7 linked regions of the Homo sapiens genome follow. The protein of the gene in region 1 purifies or fractionates together with the protein of each later gene. This does not show direct contact. Each region holds a gene or a part of one and is shown in the gene's direction. Other genes may lie near its edges. The genes, in order: ECH1, ELAVL2, PTPRK, TXNDC5, NKAP, SIRT4 and TNRC6C.

What was found.
Region 2: the proteins of ECH1 (region 1) and ELAVL2 purify together in Homo sapiens (co-immunoprecipitation; one large-scale study listed by IntAct). This does not show direct contact.
Region 3: the proteins of ECH1 (region 1) and PTPRK fractionate together in Homo sapiens (co-fractionation; one large-scale study listed by BioGRID). This does not show direct contact.
Region 4: the proteins of ECH1 (region 1) and TXNDC5 purify together in Homo sapiens (co-immunoprecipitation; one large-scale study listed by IntAct). This does not show direct contact.
Region 5: the proteins of ECH1 (region 1) and NKAP purify together in Homo sapiens (co-immunoprecipitation; one large-scale study listed by IntAct). This does not show direct contact.
Region 6: the proteins of ECH1 (region 1) and SIRT4 purify together in Homo sapiens (co-immunoprecipitation; one large-scale study listed by IntAct). This does not show direct contact.
Region 7: the proteins of ECH1 (region 1) and TNRC6C purify together in Homo sapiens (co-immunoprecipitation; one large-scale study listed by IntAct). This does not show direct contact.

The regions. Positions count from the first base shown.
Region 1 is NC_000019.10:38,825,295-38,828,794, reverse strand, and holds part of ECH1 (delta(3,5)-Delta(2,4)-dienoyl-CoA isomerase, mitochondrial precursor), read left to right. Parts: intron 1-3,500. UniProt on the Homo sapiens protein: Isomerization of 3-trans,5-cis-dienoyl-CoA to 2-trans,4-trans-dienoyl-CoA.
Region 2 is NC_000009.12:23,819,741-23,823,240, reverse strand, and holds part of ELAVL2 (ELAV-like protein 2), read left to right. Parts: intron 1-108; exon of another isoform or gene 109-475; intron 476-685; exon of another isoform or gene 686-878; intron 879-1,420; exon of another isoform or gene 1,421-1,636; intron 1,637-1,931; exon of another isoform or gene 1,932-2,014; intron 2,015-2,084; exon of another isoform or gene 2,085-2,306; intron 2,307-3,500.
Region 3 is NC_000006.12:127,982,100-127,985,599, reverse strand, and holds part of PTPRK (receptor-type tyrosine-protein phosphatase kappa isoform b precursor), read left to right. Parts: intron 1-2,222; coding exon 2,223-2,358; intron 2,359-2,619; coding exon 2,620-2,769; intron 2,770-3,500. UniProt on the Homo sapiens protein: Regulation of processes involving cell contact and adhesion such as growth control, tumor invasion, and metastasis. Negative regulator of EGFR signaling pathway. Forms complexes with beta-catenin and gamma-catenin/plakoglobin.
Region 4 is NC_000006.12:7,890,289-7,893,788, reverse strand, and holds part of TXNDC5 (thioredoxin domain-containing protein 5 isoform 1 precursor), read left to right. Parts: intron 1-2,052; coding exon 2,053-2,168; intron 2,169-3,500. UniProt on the Homo sapiens protein: Protein disulfide isomerase of the endoplasmic reticulum lumen involved in the formation of disulfide bonds in proteins. Can reduce insulin disulfide bonds.
Region 5 is NC_000023.11:119,930,252-119,933,751, reverse strand, and holds part of NKAP (NF-kappa-B-activating protein), read left to right. Parts: intron 1-1,535; coding exon 1,536-1,645; intron 1,646-1,740; coding exon 1,741-1,816; intron 1,817-3,500. UniProt on the Homo sapiens protein: Acts as a transcriptional repressor. Plays a role as a transcriptional corepressor of the Notch-mediated signaling required for T-cell development. Also involved in the TNF and IL-1 induced NF-kappa-B activation.
Region 6 is NC_000012.12:120,308,821-120,312,320, forward strand, and holds part of SIRT4 (NAD-dependent protein lipoamidase sirtuin-4, mitochondrial), read left to right. Parts: intron 1-3,500. UniProt on the Homo sapiens protein: Acts as a NAD-dependent protein lipoamidase, biotinylase, deacetylase and ADP-ribosyl transferase. Catalyzes more efficiently removal of lipoyl- and biotinyl- than acetyl-lysine modifications.
Region 7 is NC_000017.11:78,091,203-78,094,702, forward strand, and holds part of TNRC6C (trinucleotide repeat-containing gene 6C protein), read left to right. Parts: intron 1-237; coding exon 238-405; intron 406-1,730; coding exon 1,731-1,922; intron 1,923-2,417; coding exon 2,418-2,561; intron 2,562-3,500. UniProt on the Homo sapiens protein: Plays a role in RNA-mediated gene silencing by micro-RNAs (miRNAs). Required for miRNA-dependent translational repression of complementary mRNAs by argonaute family proteins.

The DNA.
Region 1 (3,500 bases):
AAAAAAAGAATATTAGCCAGGCATGGTGGCGGGCACCTTTAGTCCCAGCTACTCGGGAGGCTGAGGCAGGAGAATGGCGTGAACCTGGGAGGCAGAGGTTGCAGTGAGCCGAGATGGCGCCACTGCACTCCAGCCTGGGTGACATAGCGAGACTCCCTCTAAAAACAAAATAAAAACAAAACAAAAACTCCTTATCTTCTAATCTCAACATCTGGGTCATCTTGGGGTCAGTCTCCTTATCATCTTTTCGCTTGGAAATGGCAGGCTGGGCTCAGTGGCTCATGCCTGTAATCCCAGCACTTTGGGAAGCTGAGGTGGGTGGATCACTTGAGGTCAGGAGTTCAAGACTAGCCTGGCCAACATGGTGAAACCCCGTCTGTACTAAAAATACAAAAATTTTCCCGGCGTGGTGGTGCATGCCTGTAATCCCAGCTGCTGGAGAGCCTGAGGCAGGAGAATCGCTTGAACCCAGGAGGCAGAGGTTGCAGTGAGCCTACATCACGCCATTGCACTCCAGCCTTGGTGACAAGAGCGAGACTCTGTCTCAAAAAAAAGAAAACGGCTTCACTTTCCTGTTTCTTTGTATTTTGAGTTAGTTTGGATTGTTTCTTGGATATTGGGATATAGGAATAAGATGTGGATACTCTGGATTCTATCATATAGTTCCAAAGAGTGTTGAGTTTCGTGTTTTGGTAGCTTAGTTGGAATTAGTTTTTTTGGTTTTTCTGTTTTTATTTTTATTTTTTTGTAGAGATGAGGTCTTGCTATGTTGCCCAGTCTGGTCTTCAACTCTTGAACTCAAGCGATCCTCCTGACTCGGCCTCCCAATGTGCTGGGACTACAAGCGTGAACCACTGTGCCTGGCTTCTTGCTGATTTACAGACCATACATGCACCCCCAGCAAAAGATTTAAAAACTAATCTTCAGCCAGGGCAACACACTGAGACCTTGTCTCTAACAAAAATTAGCTGGGTGTGATGAATGACCACACTCCCAGCTACTCTGGAGGCTGAGGTGGGAGGATGGCTCGAACCAGGGAGGTCAAAACTGCAGTGAGCTGTGGTCGTGCCACTGCACCCAGCCTGGGTGACAGTGCAAGAACCCATCTCAAAACAAAAACAACAACAAAAACATACATCTCCCAGCAAGAGATTAGGGCAGAGTTGATACACAGAATTCGGGACTCCTCGCTCTGGCTCTCCCCTCTTTGGAATATCCCCCCTCACTTCCCGGCAGCTTTGGTCACCTTGGACTCTATCCTGTGGCTCTTCAAGCACAATTTCAGTCTGCCCTCAGGCTGAAAGTTTTCAAAACCATTTTCAAAAACACCGAGAGAGTGTTCTGCCACTCTCCTAAGTGGTCACTCCCTCCAGAATCTGCCCAGTGCCTTCAGATAATTGTTTGTTTCTTGTCCAGCCAGCGTATGTAGTTGTCCGTGGGAGGGTTGGCCCTTTAGGACTGAACCAGAAGCAAAATATTTCATACACTGATTTCTGCACAGGGCCCAGAGCCTGGTGCTGGGAACCCAGTCTTGACTAGGACAGTCCCAGGCCCTGTTGTCATGGCGTTCCCAACTCAGTGGGGAAGACAGACAGTAAACTATTTCTTTCTGTTTTGTCCATTAACATATTCCCAGGTCCCTTTCTTTCTTTCCCTCCCCTTTCTCCCTCCCCTCCCTCCCTCTCCTCCCTTCCTCCTTCCCCTCCCTCCCTCTCCTCCCTTCCTCCTTCCCCTCCTTCCCCTCCTTCTCCCTCTCCTCCCTGTCCTCCCTCTCCATCCTTGCTGAGGGCCCTGGTCCCTCTGGCTAAGATTAGGCCTAGATATTTGACCTGCTGTAGGCAAAGCTGGGCCTTTGACCTAGACACCTTGTACCCTTGATTAGCGAGAAAGTTCAAGAGATCTAGAGTAGCCTGCTGGCTCGAGGCTTCTGAACTGGGAGCCAAAAGTAAATCATCCATATATTGAAGGACCAGAGTGCCTGGACTTGAGAAGTGGCCTAGATCTTGGGCCAGTGCCTGACCAAACAGATGAGGCCTATCCCTAAACCCTTGGGGCAAGACCGTCCACATAATTTGGGACGTGTGGTCTGTGGGATCCTCAAAGGCAAAGAGAAACTGGGAGTCAGAGTGTAGGGGAATACAGAAGAAGGCATCCTTGAGGTCTAGAACTGTGAACCATTCTGCTGCCTCTGTTATTTGAGAGAGCAGGGTATAGGTGTTGGTTACAGCTGGATATAGAGAAATTACTGCCTCATTGATGAGTCTAAGATCTTGCACTAGTCTCCACTGACCATTTAGTTTTTGTACTCCTAGAATTGGGGTGTTGTAGGGACTGCTGCATTTCCTTACTAAGCCTGGAGCTTTTAAATGTTTAACAATATTCTGTAATCGTTTATGAGCTTCAGGCTTTAAGGGATATTGCCTTTGATAAGGAAAAGCAGTGGGATCTTTTAACCTGATTTGTAATGGGCGGGCATTTTTTGCCCTTCCAAATTGTCCTTCCAATGCCCAGACTTCAGGGTTGATTCCCTCCACAAGTAGGGGGACAACAAATGGGTAACTTGTTCCCCATATTGATGTAGATAATAGCTCCAGCCTTGGCTAATATGTCCCTGCCTAATAAGGGTGTGGAACTTTCAGGCATAATAAGAAAGGCATGTGAAAAGAGCAAAGTCTCCCAATTACAACTGAGAGGTGGGAGAAATACCTGGTTACAGGCTGTCCCAGGATTCATCGGATGGTAACAGACCTTGAGGACAGTCGTCCAGGACAGGAGATTAACACTGAGAAGGCCGCGCCAGTGTCCAGGAGGAAGTCAGTTTCCTGGCCCTCAATGGTTAAACGTACCCGGGGCTCAGTGAGGGTGATGACATGAGCTGGCGCTTGCCCCGGGCACCCTCTGTCCTGTTGTTGGATCATCTGGTTGGGGGCTTCTGACCTAGGGAACCTTCGTCCGCTGGGGCAGTGCACCTTCCAGTGATTGCCTCGGCATAGTGGACATGGACGAGGGGGCAGCTTGTTTCTCATTGGACAATCTTTTTTAAAGTGTCCTAGTAAACCGCATGATAACAAGCCCTACCGGGTGATTGGCCTCTACTATCTGTCCTCTCTGAACCACTAAGGTTTGTTAGTCTGAGGGCCATAACTAAGGCTGCGGCCTTTCTCCAATCTCACTTTTCCTTTTGGGCCTGTTCCTCTTGGTCCCTATTATAGAACACTGAGGTTGCCAGGTTTTGATAATGCCTCCAAATTTTGTTCAGGGCCCAGGGCTTGCTTTTGGAGCTTTCTCCTGATATCTGCGGCTGATTGGATAATAAACTTATCTTTTAGAATCAATTGACCCTTGAGTGATTCGGGTGACCGGGGAGTATATTTTCTTAAGGCCTCCTATAGCTGCTCGAGGAAGGCAGAAGGATTTTCTTCCTTTCCCTGAGTTATGGTGGACATCATTGAATAATTCATGGGCTTTTTCTAATTCTCCTTAGTCCTTCTAGAACACAG
Region 2 (3,500 bases), on another chromosome or scaffold:
ATTAACTATTTACTGAGAGGTCAAAGAGGCGCAGGCGCTTTGAGCAGTTTTCCCAGGAACCCACACAAAGTCAATTAAGGTCATTTAATTGCAAATCGGATTTGGGGTGACACGGAAATGCTGATATAGAATCAGTTAGCTGTATCCGGTGTCCCCAGACTGGGTCGCACAAATTAAGGGATGGCCTATCTCGCTTTTGACCTTGGTTGAGCCCCCTACTTCACTATGCTGATTAGACTTCGCCCAAGAGGGCAAATTTGCCTCTCCCACACCCGCCCTGGGTTAGACGAGTCCCCTCCCTTCCCCCCAACCCCGCTCCGCCCGTCGCATGGGGGCGGGGAGCGCTGGACGCCCTTAGCGGACCTTGCTGCATCAAACCTGCATCATGCCCTTGAAGCTGTAACCTCGGTCACGTTCTTGCGGCGACTGGGTCGCCCACTGCTCGGTTCCTTTCTCTTACCTCCTACAATTTCAGGTAGGTATGACAGGTGATTTTTTAAATGTAGTATTTTAGGAGAAGGGCTAAAATCGATGCCTTTGCAATGAAAAAAATCCCAACTACAGGTGCTCTCGTAATTAAGCGGCCGAGCAGGTGTAAAAACGTGCTCCAGCCGCGTGGCTCCGGGGTGGGTTTTGACTTCCAGCCGTGGGGCCGGGTCTGAGGACAGGCACAGGTTTTTCTGGGGAAAAGGGATTGAGCTTGGCGAAGGGGCGGGCCAAGGCAAGGCAGCGATGGGACGCCCCCTCGGTGAAGAGTTGGCCATTTCGGGTCTTGAGTTGGGGGGCGATAGAAGGATGCGGCTAGCGGCAAGCGTTTGCATAGTCGAGTGCAGGATTTCCTACTTTGCGTTTGAAGCAGAGTACAGCACCCCGCACAGGTACTCTGGGCTTATTTAAACGTCAGGTTCTCTCTAGAGAGGCAGGGAGGGGCAGCAGGGGGCTAAGCCTTTATTTTCTGTCCAGGGACAGGACCCCTTGGCTGCGAAGTAGGGGGAAAAAGAGAATTTTTAAAAGAGACACACATATGTGTGTATACTTATATATATTTATAAATACATTTATGAACACATAAAGTAACCCCCACGTTAGCTGCTCTGACTCCCCGTTAGCGCCCCGGGCCTCGGGATTTGCAAACTTGCACCTGGAATCAGCCTCCTCTGGGCGCTCAACGCTCTCCACCGAGTCCAGAGAAACCTTGTCGGGGAAGCCTGGTGAGACTCGGAAGTCCGGAGGGACGGAGCTGAGCTGCTGAAGCCCGGCATCTCCCTGCCGGCACGGACCCGAAGGGCGGTCGGGCAGGGCACGCGCCGGCGGCGGCCGCGGCGCCGCGAACTCGCCGCCGGCCCCGCCTCCTGGCGCTCTTCCAAGCAAGCCCCTCCTTCCCGCCCCGCTACAAACGGCGGGACCGCGGCGCCTGGGCGTCACTGAGGCAGTAGCCGGCCGGGTGAGGAGGGCGGTTGCCGGCGCGGCGCGGCGCGGCGCGGGTGGGGCGGGGGTTCCGCCGGCTTCCAGTCCCCTTTCCCGCCGCCGCCGCCGCCACCGCCTCTCCGCGGAGCTCGCCCCGAGCGACTCCTCCGCGGCAGTGCTGACGGCCAGCGGCACGAGCCGTAGTAGCTGCAGCTTCGAGTCACAGCAGGCAAGTGCTGGGGGCGTGGGGGCGGGGACGGCGTCCGCGCCTTGCCCCTGGTCCATTTTGGACGCCGAGGCTAAGGTCTGTGCGCGCCCCCGCTGCGTCTAGCAGGGTAGGGGTGGTGCGCCCTAGTCCGAACTCTGGGCGGGAACACTGGTGGGGGCGGCGGAGGTTGTGCCCGCGAAGTTCCTAGAGCTCAGCCCGTTGCGGCGGGAGTAGAGAGAATTGGGCGCCTCGGGAGGTGGCACCGCCCCTCCCGTGGGCACAAGCAGGTTGGGGGCGGCGGGAGCCGAGCGGGGACAGTCGCGCCTGGCAGCGTGCACGGGCGTGGACGTGCCCGGGTGCGGCCGCGTGTAGCGCAAGAAGGAAACTGTTGAGACGCAGGTGAGTGTATTGGAGGGAAAGTGGGGGAGGGGGCTTTTCTAGAAAAAGGGCAGGATTCCTGTGTTGCACTGGCAACCCCGCCTTGCGGGAGGATGTGTGCACTGGCTTCTCCCGCGGAACACGCCGGGGTGGTGTCTGGTGTGTGCCCACTTGCTACGGCGCCTTCGCGCGCGCGGTCCTTGGAGCTCTCGGGGCGTTTGGAGACTTAACACCGGCCGCGTTGTGTGCGGAGGTGGTGTAGGGCCGCGGGCGCCCAGGGCAGGAGCAATGATGATCCCCTCGTGCGCGTTAGGTGAGGCCCGTCGCAGCCGCGCGAGGTCGCAGCTCGCGGTCACATCTCGGGTTTGCGCGCGAGGCGTGCGCTGCGCGGGAAGCGCGGGCGCTCTGCCGGGCGAGGCCGGCTCTGGGATTTCAGTTCGCTTGCCGTGGTTGCGGCAGCTGCTCCTCCAGCTTGGCTGGTAGGGCCTGCCAGCGGCGGCCGGGGTGCACGGACTAGTGTGCGTGCACTGGTGAGACTGGGGGAGCCAGCGTCGGTTCACTGGCAGGTGCTCCTCCAGTGGCCGTGACAATGCTTAGCCAGCAGTCTTTCTCACGGCATTTCCTTAAAAGCCTCCTTGTTATCCTTCAGGGCCAGAGCGTAAAACCATGCCTCTAGATGCGAGCTATGAGCATGCAGTTGTAGCTGCCCAGATGGTCATTTAGAATTGTGTGCATTTTTAAAGACCATCTTTATGACAAAGATTTTCAAGTCCTATCGTCTCTACATTTTCTGAAAACATGGGAAAAGGATTTGCTACGAGTTGTCCACTCTCCTTTATTCCCTCCCTCAAAGAACGGTTCTTAGAAGTGCCAAAATGTAATACCTTCGGCAAGGACAAAAGCGCTTTTAAAACTTAATTTTCTAGTGGCCCTATTCCTAATAATTCTTCATAAAAATTTAGCTCAGCCTCAAAACTTACGGCGAATCAGTCCATTTAAAACCATTCGAATATCAATTGCTGTGTAATGTCCCCATTCCCTCAAGTAAAATCTGTTTGTTTGAAATATTGTTTTGTTGCCCTTGAAGAGTTTTCTCAAGAATCGTTTCGCCAGAGTCGCTTGAATTTCCCATTTCTTGTGGAAGCTGACCTGGAGTTTCCATTTTGGTGAGCGGGTGGAAAAGCTGTCCTGCATCTACCTTGTCTTAGTAACCTTTGGGTATATATAAATGGTGACTGTATTGCTGAGTGGACCCGAATGTTACTGCATTTGTGGTAGGGGCCTTCTTTATAGGAGGTTTGTAGGGATGCTAAGGTAACAACACTTAAGGTTGTGGGGAGGATATACTTACGGGAAGTTCGCTTGCAAACTATGGGGAGAGAAAGAAGAGGAAGAAAACATCTGGAAGATAAAGGCCAGAATGGGGTAGGAAAAATTAGAATATGAAGAAACATGTTACATTAAATTTTCTGTGATTCCTCCTTTGTAATTTTCCTTTTTGAGAGAG
Region 3 (3,500 bases), on another chromosome or scaffold:
GATAAAGTAAAACAGCAATAAAATAAAAGTTGGCTGTAAGTAGTCTATAAAACAGGAACTTAAGAAATACATACATTCATCCTAATGCGTGTAGTGTTATCCACAATTTAAAGTATAGAAACTCTGCCTTTTAATGGCAACATCTGTGTTTTTTGTTTTTATCACTTTTGCAAATCCCATATTGTATAGAATGCTAGGTTGAAATAGACATTTCTTGCCAATCTAGAAAATTCCCAATAGAATTCCAGCTTTAAAACTAAATTTCAGACATACAGAGTTACTAAATGGCCTAAATTGCAAGGATTTGTGCTGCAAAACAGCTATTTAAAAATTTTTTTTAAAGAATTCACATTAGAGGACCTTGAAAACTGCATCAGTGAGATTCAGCAAATATATGCCAAAAAACACGAGCATTATATCCAGACTTTCTTCTGATTAGAAACTTCTCTTAAAACAAGCATTTAGAGATACTAAAAGCAAATTACATGGCCTCATTTTGAGGTGTGACCAGAAAAATAAGTACTGAATCTGAAAAGCGTTTCCTAAATGATGCTGCACACCATTCTCATACGCTCTTCCCTCCAAGCTACATAATAGGTTGTACCTAAGCATTTTTTGCTTTCTGAAAATCCAACCTATTCAGGATTTAAATAACCATGTATAAAAGAGGGGAAAAAAAGCAGAGAATGAAGTAAAGGTAAAACGTCCCATAGGATCAGATACTATGTACCCTGAAAACAAAAAAAACTTCCTTTCAATCCTCCTCATGAAATCTGATGTACTCTTAAATTACATTCCTGTCTCCAACTCTGGGAACAGTGATTGAGAAGATGGTAGGGGACAAAGATAAATAGAGATAGCCACAATATCTTTTGCTTAAATTTCTAAAAGAACAGTGAGTTTAAGAGAAGTGACCAAATCTGAATAACAAGGAAATAATGTTACTAGCCTATCTAAGCACTTAGAAAATGAGATAAATAGGTTTTCAACTTAAGAATTTCTTGATTTATCAGAGAGGTTTACTTTCTTATGAATTGCTTGCTTCAGAAATGCTCCAAGATTCTCAGATACTCTCTTGAAACAGAAGTGTCATTTTCCACCTACACTGAAGCATCTCTGGACTACAAAGTGAATTCCCCACTCCCCGCAAAAAATCCTTATTTTGTTTTCCCCATTGACTTCTATATATAAAATTGGAGAAACATTCCCCAGCTGCAAAATAATCACAGTATATTACAATTAAAGGACACAAAATATGGTGAGATAGAGGAATACATTTTAGTGTTCTGTACCACTGTAGGATGAGTCTGGTAAATGATAATGTTTAGTTTGAGAGAGCTAGAAGGAAGATACTGAATGTTCACAACATAAATGATACATGTTTGAGAGGACGCATATGCCAATCACCCTTTTCTGATCACTCTACATTATGTGTATTAAAATATCACTATGTACCCAAGAATATATACATTATTATTTGCCAATTAAAGACTAAAATATAATTTTTTAAAAGTATTTTTAAAAATTAACTTTAGAATTAAATACAGTAAGATAGCGGCTAGCCTTTTGATTTGCTGGGAATCATATTCTACACCTAATAATTCATTTTCATTTCTCTTCAGATCATGATTCAAATAGTCTTTACACTGTTACTCTCCTCCCCTTTGATAACCGTCATTCTCTTGCCCACCCCCACCATTTGCATTTCCTGTGAAGCGTGGCTCCTCAGATTTCCCGTTTAAAGTTTTGGGAATTAATTTTCTTTTGCCTTGGTATTTACAAGAGGTGAAGACAGTGAGTGAGCCAACATTCTCACATTGTTGCCAGAGGACACACAACTAGATGAATCTAAAAATATTCAATCTTGAGTTAAATTTTGAAGCGTGAATCTGCCACTTGATCAATTCTATGAACTTGAAATTATGTGTATTAAATTTACATAAAATGAAAATTGTGAGAGAGGTGTGGAACTTAAACAGTGTTATTTTCAATTTGAAAATAATTTAGAACTCTTGTTCCAATCTTTAGTTTATACCAAAGCAGATACTCTGCATGAAGCTATTTGTACATTAATAAGCTTTTACACAGCAGGGACAAGTGCTGTGCCTTGCAGTTTGTTAAATCAATTTGATTCTACCTATCTGACAGTGGAAAAAGTCCTTATTTAAGGTTATGAAGACTAACATGCTTCTTACAATTCATTAAATTTAATTGTTTTTCAGTGCTGGTGCTGGACGAACTGGCTGCTACATTGTGATTGACATCATGCTAGACATGGCTGAAAGAGAGGGTGTTGTTGATATTTACAATTGTGTCAAAGCCTTAAGATCTCGGCGTATTAATATGGTCCAGACAGAGGTATGTAGATTTACCTGTAGTGGACTTTTTTTTATTTTTTATTTTTTTTGCAAACAAAGAGTAGATGTCTCTCATATATACTCTACTCAACCGAAAGAGATGTTTTTCATGTGTAATCAATATTAGCTGAGTCATATAGAAAAATATTGGTGTTTTAATTCATATTTCCATATAGAGAAAATTTTCTGTATTTCCTAACTTTGATGACAGAAAAGTGATACTAAAACTAGTACAAAATTTTCTTTTTCATTCTTTTGGTAGGAACAGTACATTTTTATTCATGATGCCATTTTAGAAGCCTGCTTATGTGGAGAAACTGCCATACCTGTCTGTGAATTTAAAGCTGCATATTTTGATATGATTAGAATAGACTCCCAGACTAACTCTTCACATCTCAAGGATGAATTTCAGGTATTAACTATTTCTAAAACCTCTTTTGTGACTTACTACAATTTGTTCTGGGCGCTAGGAATCCTTTCAAGGAAGGTCTTTCAAGTCAAATTTATAACCTTTGATCCTGTTTTAAATACAATACGTATCTCTTTCATTATACATATTATATAGTCACTTTTCTATTGATGAATTTATATCTACTATATCCAAAATGACAAATAAGTTCAGACTTAGGGAAGAGCAAAGGGGAAAGGTATCATAAAAGTCAAAAATTAGGCCAGGCGCAGTGGCTCATGCCTGCAATCCCAGCACTTTGGGAGGCCGAGGCGGGTGGATCACGAGGTCAGGAGATCGAGACCATCCTGGCTAACACGGTGAAACCCCGTCTCTACTAAAAAGACAAAAAAAATTAGCCAGGCATGGTGGCGGGTGCCTGTAGTCCCAGCTACTCGGGAGGCTGAGGCAGGAGAATGGCGTGAACCTGGCAGGCGGAGCTTGCAGTGAGCCGAGATTGCACCACTGCACTCCAGCATGGGCAACAGAGCGAGACTCCGTCTCAGAAAAAAAAAAGAAATAATAACAAGTCAAAATGAGTGGTGATTTGTGTGTATTTAGTGTGTATTTATAGCCTTTTTTTCATGCAGTCATACAGATTTTGACCTGGGTCACTCACAATGTGATGAGATCAAGCACATTAATTATAACTGAGTCTGGGTTCAGTGGCAGCTCACACCTATAATCCTAGCACT
Region 4 (3,500 bases), on another chromosome or scaffold:
TGCCTGCTGGGAGTCAGAGCCCCTCCCCCACCACACTTACTGTCCACAGTAACTTATCGTGAGGCCTTCAGCCTTTTCCCACTTTTGCTAAAAGTTATTTCATCCATACCAGCGCCCTGACGGCAGAACTCTAGCATGCTTTCCGCTACGGGAATGCATTTTCAGCTGGGATTGTCTTGGGCTCTGAGCAGGGTGTGTTTCCCAAATCACCTGTTACGGACCGACTCCGGCAGGACAGACCGACTCCGGCAGGCCTAGCCAGCGCCTCCCTAAGTGGGTCACTGCCACACAGCTGTGTCGTGTAGGTACCATGGTGGCTTCCTGCCCTTGCTGGCTTCCCATCAGTACTCTGATTAGGTTCCCAGAGAGCCTGTCTCCACCTTACAGTGCAGGATCTACTGTGCACCTGCACATGGTTTCAGCTTTGCACATTTTTTAATGGAAGTTGTTAACTTTTAAAGGAAGTTTTTCACCATTTTCTTCAAGTGCATTGTTGCTGTGCTGATGAGACAGTAGCTGTGAGCCTTAGTGTGGCAGAGTCCTGCTCAGACGCCAGGCCACATGCCACTGGTTAGTTCTCTCCCCGGCCACAGCCTGCTTTCAGTTTGGTATCAGCCCAATGTCAGGGTAGAACAGCTAAACACCTTCTGTGTCCAAATAATGATGCTGTGAGGGTTTGTTTGTTTTTTTCCCCGTAGCCAAGGGGGTGATGTTTCATTTTTTAAACTTTTTTTTATGATAAAATATAATACAGATCGAGAAAACAAATGTAGGGCTTAATGAATTTTTATAGCGTGGTCACACTGTAACTACTGTCCAGTTCAAGAAATAAAACTGCCAGCTTCCCGTGTCCCATGCAGGGCACAGCCCGCCCTCCCTTCTCCAAGAAGGCACTTGCCTGACATTTGTGGAAACCACTTGTATTAGTCCGTTTTCACTGCTGATGAATACACACCCGAGACTGGGCAATTTACAAAGGAAAGAGGTTTAATGGAGAACTCACAGTTCCACGTGGCTGGCGAAGCCTCACAATCATGGTGGAAGGCAAGGAGGAGCAAGTCACATCTTATATGGATATCAGCAGGCAAAAAGAGCTTGTGTAGGGAAACTCCCGTTTTTAAAACCATCAGATCTCATGAGACTTATTCACTATCACGAGACCAGCATGGGAAAGACCTGTCCCCGTGACTCAGTTACCTCCTACCTGGTCCCTCCCACGACATGTGGGAATTCAAGATGAGATTTGGGTGGGGACACAGCCAAACCATATCAACTCCTTTATGTGCACTGAAGTGCACATTCCTGAGCACTATAGTTCTATATGTGTATGTGTTTATATATCTTTTAAGGCTCTTTTAACCTGCATGTTCTCCAGACATCTCTTTATCTTTCTTGCTGAAGACATAGGTGGTTTGACCTGTAGAGCTCCCCGTGGTCCAGACTTTGCTAATTGTGTCCCCGTAGTGTGGTCTACATGTTTCCCTGATTTCTCTGTTTCCTGGAAATTGGTAGTTGGGTCTGGGGACAAAATCAGTTTCAGTGTGATGTTTTTTGGGGGCACAAGAAGACCTCATAGCTGGTGGGGGCACAGAACGTCCAGTTGTCTCTCTTTGGGATGTGGTCGACCATGACAGGCAGAGCCTGGGTCCGTCCATTCCTTAGGGCTGCCAAGTGCCGAGGCTCATTCAAGCGTCCCTTCATTTTTTAACCAAGAGAAACTCACCCTCATTTATCACCTGGTTATTCAGCGGTACAGTGCATATAGGAGAGGTGGGAGAAATGCCTGATTCTTTCCTTTTATTACAGTTTTCCAAATAATGAGTTGATTGCTGATTGTCCATCAAAGATGACAAATTTGGTTTTGAGTATTGTTATGAAGTCATGAACAGAAACACATTTGATGGAGTCCCTTTGTACCAATTAAAGTGCTCATGCCGAACTAAGATTTGCTAAGCAGGACAAAGATCTGATTCTTCAATTAACTCTCTAGTGAGGTCTGACATAAATTACAGTTCCTCTTTCCCCCGTCTCTGCCTTGGCTCTCCACTCCAGGCGACCACTTTATCAAGTTCTTCGCTCCGTGGTGTGGTCACTGCAAAGCCCTGGCTCCAACCTGGGAGCAGCTGGCTCTGGGCCTTGAACATTCCGAAACTGTCAAGATTGGCAAGGTGAGTGAAAGCCCTTATTAAACTGGAAATGGACTGCTTTGGGCTGGATTAATTAGCAGAGTGGCCCATTATTCATTCCGTGTGCAAAGTCGCAAACTTGATTTATTAATTCCATTTAGTGTGCCACTTGATAATTCATTTCACCTTCACAGATGGCAGTCTGATTTTGAGTTTTGCTGGCTTTTCCACAGCCTAGAGATAAATTATGGCCTCGGCTGCTTTGTTTATTTTGAAGAGATGGCCAAATCTGAATTGGCAGCCCCAGAGCCCGTTCTGCAAAGAGATGGGGTAGAGCCTTGTAGAATGTTCACTGGACGAACTTGGAGACCGTCCACGTTCGACCTCACCCAAGAGCTCTCTCTAAAAGGACCCTGGCTCTGTGCTCCCCCAAGCACGCAGAAGACCCTCCCTCAGTTTGCACTGTGCCTGGGATTCTTTCCAGCATTTCCTACTTTATACAGAGAAGCCAAGAGTGGTGTCTGACAACTTCTGTGTAACTGGATTTTCTGGAAATATCCAGTGTAGCTCCAGGGACATCACTTTTATTCTTCTACACTTTCCAGCACCCACCAGACACCATGCATAGATTTCCTTTCTTAAAAATCTCATTTTTCTACCTTGCCATGGGGCTGATTTGTATCCAAAAGTAATGCTGCGTGTCTAGGACTGAATGATGGTTAACAGGATGATCTACTTGGGATGGTGAGATGGTCAAAAGCATAAACTTGGGGGTTGGGTAGACCTGGCTGGCTGACCTTGGGAAAAACCTCTCCACGCCTCGGTCTCCCCCTTTGCAAAACTGAGCTAAGATCTACTGTGTGGTGTCTGGGCAGATGAAAGTACACTGCTTAGTGTGATGCTTAGCATGGGGCAGATGCTTGGTAAATTGTAATCACTTTTGTTGTCAGTTAAATGGATATTTCACTGTTGCCTCTTAAACGCTTACGATAATATATACTAATTATACATGTTATTATCAGTTTATATTTATTGAACATTTCGGGGAAGTAATTATAAAATAATCTTGTCTACTGTCTTACCCCATTCCTTGTATCCTTACTTAATTATTGTATGAAATTTTATGGGAGATTCTTTTAGGTTTATATCCATAGAGGATCCTAGCAGACCTAGGCGTGAGCAGACACAAGCCCAGGTGACCACGCTGAAGCCCTTCATCCCTGGCACATGTGGCTGGGTTACACTGGACCCTTAAAAATGCTTGTCCTCTCCCGACCTTGGGCTGAGGCCTCTTGTACTTCAGTTCCGCACCTTAGCTGCTCTCTGACGGGTCTTAGGTGTTGAAATAGTATTTTTACCCCCGTTTGCTGACAT
Region 5 (3,500 bases), on another chromosome or scaffold:
AGCCCAGGAGTTCAATACCAGCCTGGGCAACATAGCGAGATCCTGTCTCTATATTTAAAAAAAAAACAAAAACCCATAACCAGAATGCTATTATTGTGCCTAAAACATTTAATAATAATTCCTCTATTCTCAGCAGTTTTTTCTGTAGTTTATTCCAATCAGGATCCAAATAATGTCCCTAAATTGCAGTGACCGTATTCTTATGGTATTCTTTGGCATGTTCTGTCCTCTGTATTTCCAATAGATTAATAGGTCTAGAGGCCTGAGAAGGCTCAGATTTGAGTTGGGGCAAGAATACTTCATAAGTGGTGCTGTTTACTGTCAGGAGGCAAATAATGTCTGGTTGTCACTTTTTGTCATATTAACAGCCATTGATGGTCATTATCTCGATCCATTATTTCATTAGGGGTTGTAAAATGGTGATAGTCTAATCCTGGCTTTATCCTTCATTTATTAGGCAGAATGATTCTATAAGAGAAACTTACCCTCATCAACTATTTAGATACCCTGAAATATAGTTTATATTGTAAGAGCAGGATAATTGCTTGATTTTTTTTGTTTTAATGACTTTTCAAATAATGAATTGGATTTTTAAAAAGTATTATTAACCCAAGGATTTAAACATATTTGACATATTTTAATCCATTACACATAAAATTATTCATAATGTTCAAATTGTTGGGACTTTTTAGGCTGTTTTATTTCTGTTGTCTTTCTACAACATCAGAACTGTATTTCATTGTTCCCTTTAGTGAATTTTTTTTTTTTTGAGACCGTGTCTCACCCTGTCACCCAGGCTGGAATGCAGTGGCACGATCACAGCTCACTACAACCTCAACCTTCCAGGATCAAGCCATCCTCCCACCTCTGCCCCCACTTTCCCCATACCTGGGACTACAGGCGTGTGCCACCACACCTGGCTAATTTTTGTATTTTTTGTAGAGACACGGTTTCGTCATGTTGCCCAGGGCTAGTTTCTAACCCCTGGGCTCAAGTGACCCACCCGCCTCAGTCTTCCAATGTGCTGGGATTACAGGGGTGAAACACTACACCCAGCCTCCTTTAGTGATAATTTTTATAGCAAAAGATGATTTGGTTAAATAAGTTAGAATACTTTTTAAAAAAATTCTTAAGAGGCAGTGTCTCGCTCTGTTGCCCAGACTGGAGTGCAGTGGGCTAATCATAGCTCATTGCAGCCTCGAACTCCTGGGCTCAAGTGATCCTCCCGCCTCAGCCTCCTGAATAGCTTAGACTACAGATGTGTGCCATCACACCCAGCTACTTTTTTTTTTTTTTAATAGAGACGGGGTCTTGCTCTGTTTCCCAGGTTCAGTTAGAAGCAGATTTTTTTAAGTAAAATTATCTTGTAAGTTTGAATAAGCTGGGAATTCAGATCATTTTATTGTCACCTTTCTTTGCCTTGAAAAATTAAGATGTATAGTCACCAGTTCAAAATTTAAAAAGAAAAGAAAAATTAAGATGCCCTCTAACATAGGAAGATTAAGTGAATTTGTATCAAATTAAAATCCCTATAGGAAGAAATATAAGAAAAAGAGGTCTAAGAAGAGCAGAAAAGAGTCCAGTGATTCAAGCTCTAAAGAATCCCAAGAAGAGTTTCTGGAAAATCCCTGGAAGGATCGAACAAGTAGGTTCTTCTGATAGACTAACTCAGAACAGATGAAACATTAAAGTAACCAATTAGTCAGAATGTGAATGTGTTTCTTAATATCTTTCATGCAGAGGCTGAAGAACCATCAGATTTAATTGGCCCAGAGGCTCCAAAAACACTTACCTCTCAAGATGATAAACCTTTGAAGTAAGCAGCAGTGTGTTTATAATATCTAAAGTACCTACCAAAAAGTCTGGTTCTAACTTACCTTGCCAAGCTTATCTGACTCTATTCCCTTATTTCTACTCCAGGTTCCAGCTGAGCTGGACTACTAAATATTCCCTGGGCTTAATGTGCACTTTGCAACTTTTATGCCATGTTCAGCTTATTTCTTCATCCAGTATGCCTTCCCTTCTTTTCCCTGCCCTCTGTTTTCTTCCCTATCGCCAGTTTCTTCCTGTTAAAATCCTTACTATCCTTCGAAGCCCTTTTCAAAAGGAGATGCATATGCTGATTCCCAATACTTCCCCTCCACAAGTAGGTGTGATTTCTGTTTCTCTTTGATCCTCACAGAATTTTTTATTCCTTTTTTTCTCTTTTTTCTTTTTTTACCAGCAGAATTTTTTTTTCTTTTTGTGAGACGGAGTCTCGCTCTGTTGCCCAGGCTGGAGTTTAGTGGCGTGATCTTGGCTCACTGCAACCTCTGCCTCCCAGGTTCAAGCGATTCTCCTGCCTCAGCCTCCTGAGTAACTGGGATTACAGGCACGCGCCACCACACTCAGCTAATTTTTTTTTGTATTTTCAGTAGAGATACGGTTTTACCATGTTGGTCAGGCTGGTCTCAAATTCCTGACCTCATGATCCACCTGCCTCAGCCTCCCAAAGTGCTGGGATTACAGGCGTGAGCCACCGCACCTGGTCTAGAATTTTTTTTTTGTTTGTTTTGTTTTGTTTTTTTGAGATGGAGTCTCACTCTGTCTCCCAGGCTGAAGCACAGTGGTGTGATTGAGTTTCACTCTGTTGCCCAGGCTGGAGTGCAGTGGCATGATCTTGGCTCACTGCAACCTCCACCTCCCAGATTCAAGTGATTCTCCTGCCTCAGCCTCCCAAGTAGCCAGGATTACAGGCGCCTGCCGCCACGCCCGGACTAATTTTTGTATTTTTAGTAGAGCTGGGGTTTCGCCATGTTGGCCAGTATGGTCTCGAACTCCTGATCTCAAGTGATCTGCCCGCCTCAACCTCCAAAAATGCTGAGATTACAGGCGTCAGCCACTGCACCCAGCCTACTTTGTTTTTTTTTTTTGTTTTGTTTTGTTTTGTTTTTTGAGACAAAGCCTTACTCTGTCGCCCAGGCTGGAGTGCAGTGACACGATCTCGGCTCACTGCAACCTCTGCCTCCCAGGTTCAAGTGATTCTCCTGCCTCAGCCTCCTGAGTAGCTGGGACTACAAGCATGCACCACCATGCCCGGCTAATTTTGTATTTTTAGTAGAGACGGGGTTTCGCTATGTTGGCCAGGCTGCTCTCAAGCTCCTGATCTCAGGTGATCCTCCCGCCTCAGCCTCCCAAAGTGTTCAGATTGTAGGCGTGAGCCACTGTGCCTGGCATACTTTGGATTTTTTAAGGGAAAAAGGGAAAGGGAATCAGCTGGAGCCAGAACCAGTAATGACAATACCTGTAGGGATAAATTAATCCATAATTGTAAACTGTGAATCTATACTCACAGCAGTTCTTTTCTTTCAAAATATTTCTGCATTTCTGGGTTAGTTGTATAGGTCATAGTGCAATGCAATGTTTAATACACTAATTAGGATAAAGCAATTCACATTGAGCTTCCTAGCACACTACTGCTGAGCACTGTTATTCCTACTCTTGTTTGAGAGAAAATGTGG
Region 6 (3,500 bases), on another chromosome or scaffold:
TAGACTAAGGTGGTATCCAGGGAATTTGAGTTAATGATGCTTATGGATTCATTAAAACAATTTTTTCCGCCGGGCGTGGTGGCTCATGCCTGTCATCTCAGCACTTTGGGATGCCGAAGCGGGTGGATAACCTGAGGTCGGGAGTCAAGACCAGCCTGACCAACATGGAGAAACCCTGTCACTACTAAAAGTACAAGAACAACAAAAAATTAGCCGGGCATGGTGGCACATGCCTGTAATCCCAGCTACTCGGGAGGCTGAGGCAGGAGAATCGCTTGAACCTGGGAGGCGGAGGTTGCGGTGAGCCAAGACTGTTGTGCCATTGCCCTCCAGCCTGGGCGACAAGAGTGAAACTCTGTCTCAAAAAAAACTCACAATTTTTTTCATGAAGAAAATCTGTTCTTTTAATAATGAAAATTTCAAACTTCACAAAAGTAAAGAGAATTGTATAATGAATTCTCATATACCATCACCCAGATTCCAAGGTTTTATCAAGATTTTGTCATGTCTACTTTATCCATTCTGTCTCTTCTTAAGCATTTTAAAACAATCCAGGACTTCTTGACATTTCACAGGGGCCTTTTTTTCTTTTCTTTTTTTTTTTTTTTTGAGACAGAGTCTCACTCTGTCGCCTAGGCTGGAGAGCAGTGGTGAGATCTTGGCTCACTGCAACCTCCACCTCCCGGGTTCAACCGATTCTCCTGCCTCAGCCTCCTGAGTAGCTGGGATTACAGGCATGCACCACCATGCCCGGCTAATTTTTGTATTTTTGGTAGAGACTGGGTTTCACCGTGTTGGGCCAGGCTGGTCTCAAACTCCTGACCTCAGGTGATCTGCCTGCCTTGGCCTCCCAAAGTGCTGGGATTACAGGCATGAGCCACTGTGCCCGCTTTCTTTTTTTTTTTTTTTTTTTGAGATGAAGTCTTGCTCTGTCACCTAGGCTGGAGTACAATGGCATGATCTTGGCTCACTGTAACCTCTACATCCTGGGTTCAAGCAATTCTCCTGTCTCAACCTCCTGAGTAGCTGGAATTACAGGTGTGCACCACCACACCCGGCTAATTTTTTTGTATTTTTGTAGAGACAGGGTATCACCATGTTGGCCAGGCGGGTCTCAAACTCCTGACCTCAACTGATCCACCCATCTTGGCCTCCCAAATTGCTGGGATTACAGGTGTGAGTCACCGTGCCCGGCCTGGCCTTTTTTTCTTTTTTAGACAGGGTCTGGTTCTGACACCCAGGCTAGAGTGCAATGGTGCCATCATAACTCCCTGTAACCTAGAACTCCTGGGTAATTAGAACTCCAGCTAATTAAAAAATTTTTTTTGGCTAGGCGTGGTGGCTCACGTCTGTAGTCTCAGCACTTTGGGAGGCCGAGGTGGGCAGATCACAAAAATTAGCTGGGCGTGGTGGCAGGCGCCTGTAATCCCAGCTGCTCGGGAGGCTGAGGCAGGAGAATCGCTTAAGCCCAGGAGGCGGAGGTTGCAGTGAGCCGAGATCGCGCCATTGCACTCCAGCCTGGGCGACAGAGCAAGACCCCGTCTCAAAAAACAAAGACAAGCCAAAAAAATTTTTTTTGTAGAGAGAGCGTCTTGCTGTCTACCCAGACTGGTCTGGAACTCCTGAGCTCAAGCGATTCTCTTGCTTTACGCTCCCAAAGTGCTGGGATTACAAGGTGTGAGCCACCATGCCTGGCCACAGGGGTTCTTTTAAGAGAAGAAAATCAACATAATCTGATGGCTGACTAGAACTAAAAGGAGAAAAATGAGGCTGGTTGTGGTGGCTCACACCTGTAGTCCCAGCACTTTGGAAGACTAAGGCAGGAGGATTGCTTGAGCCTAGGAGTTCGAGGCTGCAGTGAGCTATGATCATGCCACTGCACTCCAGGTAAGAGCCACCACGCCTGGCCAAGACCCTGTCTCTTTTTTTTTTTTGAGACGGAGTCTCGCTCGTTGCCCAGGCTGGAGTGCAGTGGTGCTATCTCGGCTCACTGCAAGCTCCGCCTCCCGGGTTCACGCCATTCTCCTGCCTCAGCCTCCCGAGTAGCTGGGACTACAGGCGCCCGCCACCACGGCCGGCTAATTTTTTGTATTTTTAGTAGAGATGGGGTTTCACCGTGTTAGCCAGGATGGTCTCGATCTCCTGACCTCGTGATCCGCCCGCCTCGGCCTCCCAAAGTGTTGGGATTACAGGCGTGAGCCACCACGCCCAGCCTGACCCTGTCTCTTAAAAAAAAAAAAAAAAAAAAAAAAAATAGGCCGGGCGCAGTGGCTCATGCCTGTAATCCCAGCATTTTGGGAGGCCAAGGCGGGCAGACCACCTGAGGTCAAGAGTTCGAGACCAGCCTCAACATGGAGAAACCCCGTCTCTACTAAAAATACAAAATTAGCCGGGCGTGGTGGTGCATGCCTGTAATCCCAGCTACTCGGGAGGCTGAGGCAGGAGAATTGCTTGAACCTGGGAGGCAGAGGTTGCGGTGAGCCAAGATCGCGCCATTGCACTCCAGCCTGGGCAACAAGAGTGAAACTCCGTCTCAAAAAAATAAAAAATAAAATAAAAAAATAAAAACAGACACAAAGTGCTCTCCCTCACTGGCTCAAGCTCTGGTGATTGGAGAGGTGAGAAGGGGGGCCAGGTGCAGTGGCTCACACCTGTAATCCCAGCACTTTGGGAGGCCAAGGCAGGCGGATCACCTGAGGTCGGGAGTTTGAGACCAGCCTTACCAACATGGAGAAACCCCGTCTCTACTAAAAATACAAAAAAAATTAGTCGGGTGTGGTAGAGCCTGCCTGTAATCCCGGCTACTCAGGAGGCTGAGGCAGGAGAATCGCTTGAGACCAGGAGGTGGAGGTTGCGGTGAGCCAAGATCATGCCATTGCACTCCAACCTGGGCAATGAGAGTGAAACTTGCTCTCAAAAAAAAAAAAAAAAAAAAAAAAAAAAAGAGGTGAGAAGAGAACCAGGAGACACTGTGTCCTGGAAACCAAGAAGGAGAAGCATTTTAGAAGGAATGGTAATAGACAGTGGCAAATTCAGCAGATGAGCAAGGGAAAGTATAGAGGGAAAAACGCAGGTTTGGGCATTAAGGAAATCAGCAGGCAAGGCATTTGCAGTCATGTTAAGGATAAAAGTGAGCTATAGCAGAAGGTTAGGAAGGAGTGTATAGGAAGGAAATTGATGGGCTGGGCGCAGTGGCTCACACCTGTAATCCCAGCACTTTGGGAGGCCAAGGAGGGAGGATCACTTGAGGCCAGGAGTTTGAGACCAGCCTGGGCGACACAGTGAAACACCGTCTCTACCAAAACTACAAAAATTAGCTGGGCGAGATGGCGCGTGTTTGTAGTGCAGTCCCTGCCACTCAGGAGGATGAGGTGGGAGGATAACCTGAGCCCAGGAGGTTGAGGCTGCAGTGAGCTGAGATCGTGCCACTGCATTCCAGCCTGGGCAACAGCCAGACCCTGTCTCCAAAAATAAAAAAAATAAAATAGAAAGTATGGCTA
Region 7 (3,500 bases), on another chromosome or scaffold:
TGTATCCCAGCTACTTGGGAGGCTGAGGCAGGAGAATCGCTTGAACCTGGGAGGCGGAGGTTGCAATGAGCCAAGATTGTGCCATTGCACTCCAGCCTGGGCATCAAGAGCAAGACTCCGTCTCAAAAAAAAAAAAAAATTTGCTGTAAGCGAAGACTGAAATAGCTTCTATAGGAGAGCTTTAGAATGAAGTCATTTAGAGGAGCAGGCGAATCCTAACCGCATCTCTCTCTTTAGCTGGACTGAACCCAAACATGAATGTCAACAGCATGGACATGACCGGTGGCTTGTCGGTGAAGGACCCATCCCAGTCCCAGTCACGCCTCCCCCAGTGGACGCACCCCAACTCCATGGATAACTTGCCCAGTGCCGCTTCCCCCCTGGAGCAGAACCCTAGCAAGCATGGTACGTCTGAGCTAGGATGCCTGTGGTGGGATCACTGCTGGCTTATTAATCGATCGTCCTGTTGTATAGCATGGCCATTCTATACTTTTCTAAGAATTGAGCACTGAAAGTTGGATTTAAAATAACCCATTCCATTATAGTGCATATAAGATCTCAGCTAGTCACTGATCAAACTTCTTAAAACCCAACCATTAGATCTTAGCTACAAACTTAGAAATAATTTGAAAACCCCAGAGCAGCAAAGAATCTAGGTCATAGCCTGTGTACTTTTTTTATGTATCTATATTCATCAACAAAAACTTGAGTCTGCTGAAATGTTTTCAATAAAATGGTAAAACATAAATAGAAAATCAAATATACAGTATGTATGGGAACTGCAGCTGTAAATACTAGGGTGCATTTCTGTTGGTTATTCCCCTCCATCCAAGCAGTCTGTCTTACTCCAAACTGGTGTCCCCATCGGGAACTCTTTACTGATGGACACACGAGTAAGGTGGAAGCAAAAATGATAACCATAGGAGGTAATCTCACTCTCAAGCATTAAATTTAACTCTGAACTTCCTGGTAGAATAAACAGCAAAGGAAATTCAGTAGGTTACGTAGTTCTCTCTTGATAGGAAGCATTCTAAAAAGAAAAAGGAAACTATGTCTCATGGTTAACTTACGGAAAATCATCACACACTGCTGGCACCTTTCTTAGCAGGAGGGCTCTGCTGCCTGTAGCTGGTTGGTTTGGTTCTGTATGAATTTTTAACATCCACTGTGTTCTTCCGTAGTGAGGGTTTCAGACTAAAAGGAGGGAAGAGATAACAGCAAATTTGATAGCTAATCACAAAGACTCATAAGTTGTCCCCAAAAAGATTTATTAAGGGCAGCTTCCCATGGTATGGATATGTATTTTGTAAAGACTTCTTACTGGACAAACTGAAATTGTTCTTCAAGGGTTTCAATCTTTCAGGGCTGAAATTGTAGCTAACTGAAACAGTCACTGGCCAGGCATGGTGGCTCACACCTGTAGTTCCAGCTACTTGGGAGGCCAAGGTGGGAGGATCGCTTGAGCCCAGGAGGTTGAGCCCTGATCACATCACTACACTCCAGCCTGGGCCACAGAGTGAGAAGTTGTCTCAAAAAAATAAATAAATAAATAAATAAAGTCATTGATTCTTACAGAATCCTAGACAGACCAAGTCTTACAATTCATGTAACTGAATAGGGCAAGGCATTGGACCTAGAACAGAAGGTACATAGGGAGGCTTAGGGTATCTTCTGGTGTCTCTCAACTGGAGAGTATTCACTCGCTTCTTTGTTTCCTATTGTCCCCATAGGTGCTATCCCTGGAGGTCTAAGCATTGGGCCTCCAGGTAAGTCCTCCATTGATGACTCCTATGGCCGGTACGATTTAATCCAGAACAGTGAGTCACCAGCCAGTCCTCCCGTAGCTGTTCCCCATAGCTGGTCACGTGCCAAATCTGACAGTGATAAAATCTCAAATGGCTCTAGCATCAACTGGCCCCCAGGTAAGACCATGCAACACTTCTGTGCAACAGCAGCAGGTCAGAATGTGCTCCAAGCCTGCAGAGAGTGATTAGGCTGAGAGGACCCAGAATCTGAGCTAAGGATCTGGAAGCGTTAAGCCCAGAGCTTTGGCATTTTCCTTGGAAATCCATTTGTCAGATCAATTTTGGGTATGGTTAGCATCAGGCATTTTTCTGTAAACCCTTAGTTCAGCATGAGGAGTGGAAGGGGTGGCAGGGAGGAAGCACACTGCACACTATCCGGTAAAACTATTCCAACCCTGTGTGAAAACTAGCTTAATATGATAGCTGTGATACCTGGTTCTAGTTTGTTCCAAAGGATTGATTGCTTTAATGAAAGAGAGTATAAGGTGTACCTCTAATTTAATTAGCAGATTATAAAAATTTCTACAAACAGGACAAAACATCTTTTAAAATTTCGTGAATCAATGTGCCGGTGTTCTGATCTGTGGCTTCTCATTTTGGTTTCTTAAACAGAATTCCATCCGGGAGTTCCATGGAAAGGACTGCAGAATATTGACCCTGAGAATGACCCTGACGTCACTCCTGGCAGTGTCCCCACTGGGCCTACCATCAACACCACCATCCAGGATGTCAACCGCTACCTCCTCAAGAGTGGAGGTGAGGGTGCTGCTCTTCCTGCCTCTGCATGGACGGTCTCTCTAGACCCATTTGGAGATGTCAGGGGTGACAGGTTGGGCTGTGAGGCAGGGATGATACAAGGCACAGTTGGCGGGCACCTTTTCTAGTCACCTGAAGCAGCATGAAAAGACAGCAGGTAGTGCTTATGGAGAAATGGAAATCAATTTGAGTTTCTGCTGGATTTTTTATTATTATTACTTTTTTTTTTTTTTTGCGATGAAGTCTCACTCTGTCGCCCAGGATGGAGTGCAGTGGCATGATCTCAGCTCTCTGCAATCTCCACCTTCTGGGTTCAAGCGACTCTCCTGCCTCAGCCTCCCAAGTAGCTGGAATTACAGGCATGTGTGCCACCATACCAAGCTAATTTTTGTATTTTTAGTAGAGACAGGGTTTTGCCATGTTGGCCAGGCTGGTCTCGAACTCCTGACCTCAGGTGTCGCCCATGCTGCTGGATTTATTGATAAGTAATGTCTTATCATAGAAGTGCCATCTCTGATAAAGTTTTATCACAGCATGCTATTTTGTGGAAGGAAGAGCTAGATTGCCATAGGTACTATCACTAATAAGGCCACCTAGATAGTTCCCAAAACATTGAATTTCCCACTTGAAATATGACTCATTGGAGCCATGTGTTTTGTGTTTGCTTCTTTTGTTTCTTTTTTTTTTTTTTTTGAGACAGATTCTCGCTCTCTTGCCCAGGCTGGAGTATAGTGGCGTGATCTTGGCTCACTGCAACCTCCGCCTCGCAGGCTCAAGTGATTCTCATGCCTCAGCCTCCCGATTAGCTGGGACTACAGGCGTGCACCACCACACCCAGCTAATTTTTTCTATTTTTAGTAGAGATGGGGTTTCACCATGTTTGCCAGGCTGATCTCGAACTCCTGACCTCAAGTGATCCGCCTGCTTTGGCCTCCCAAA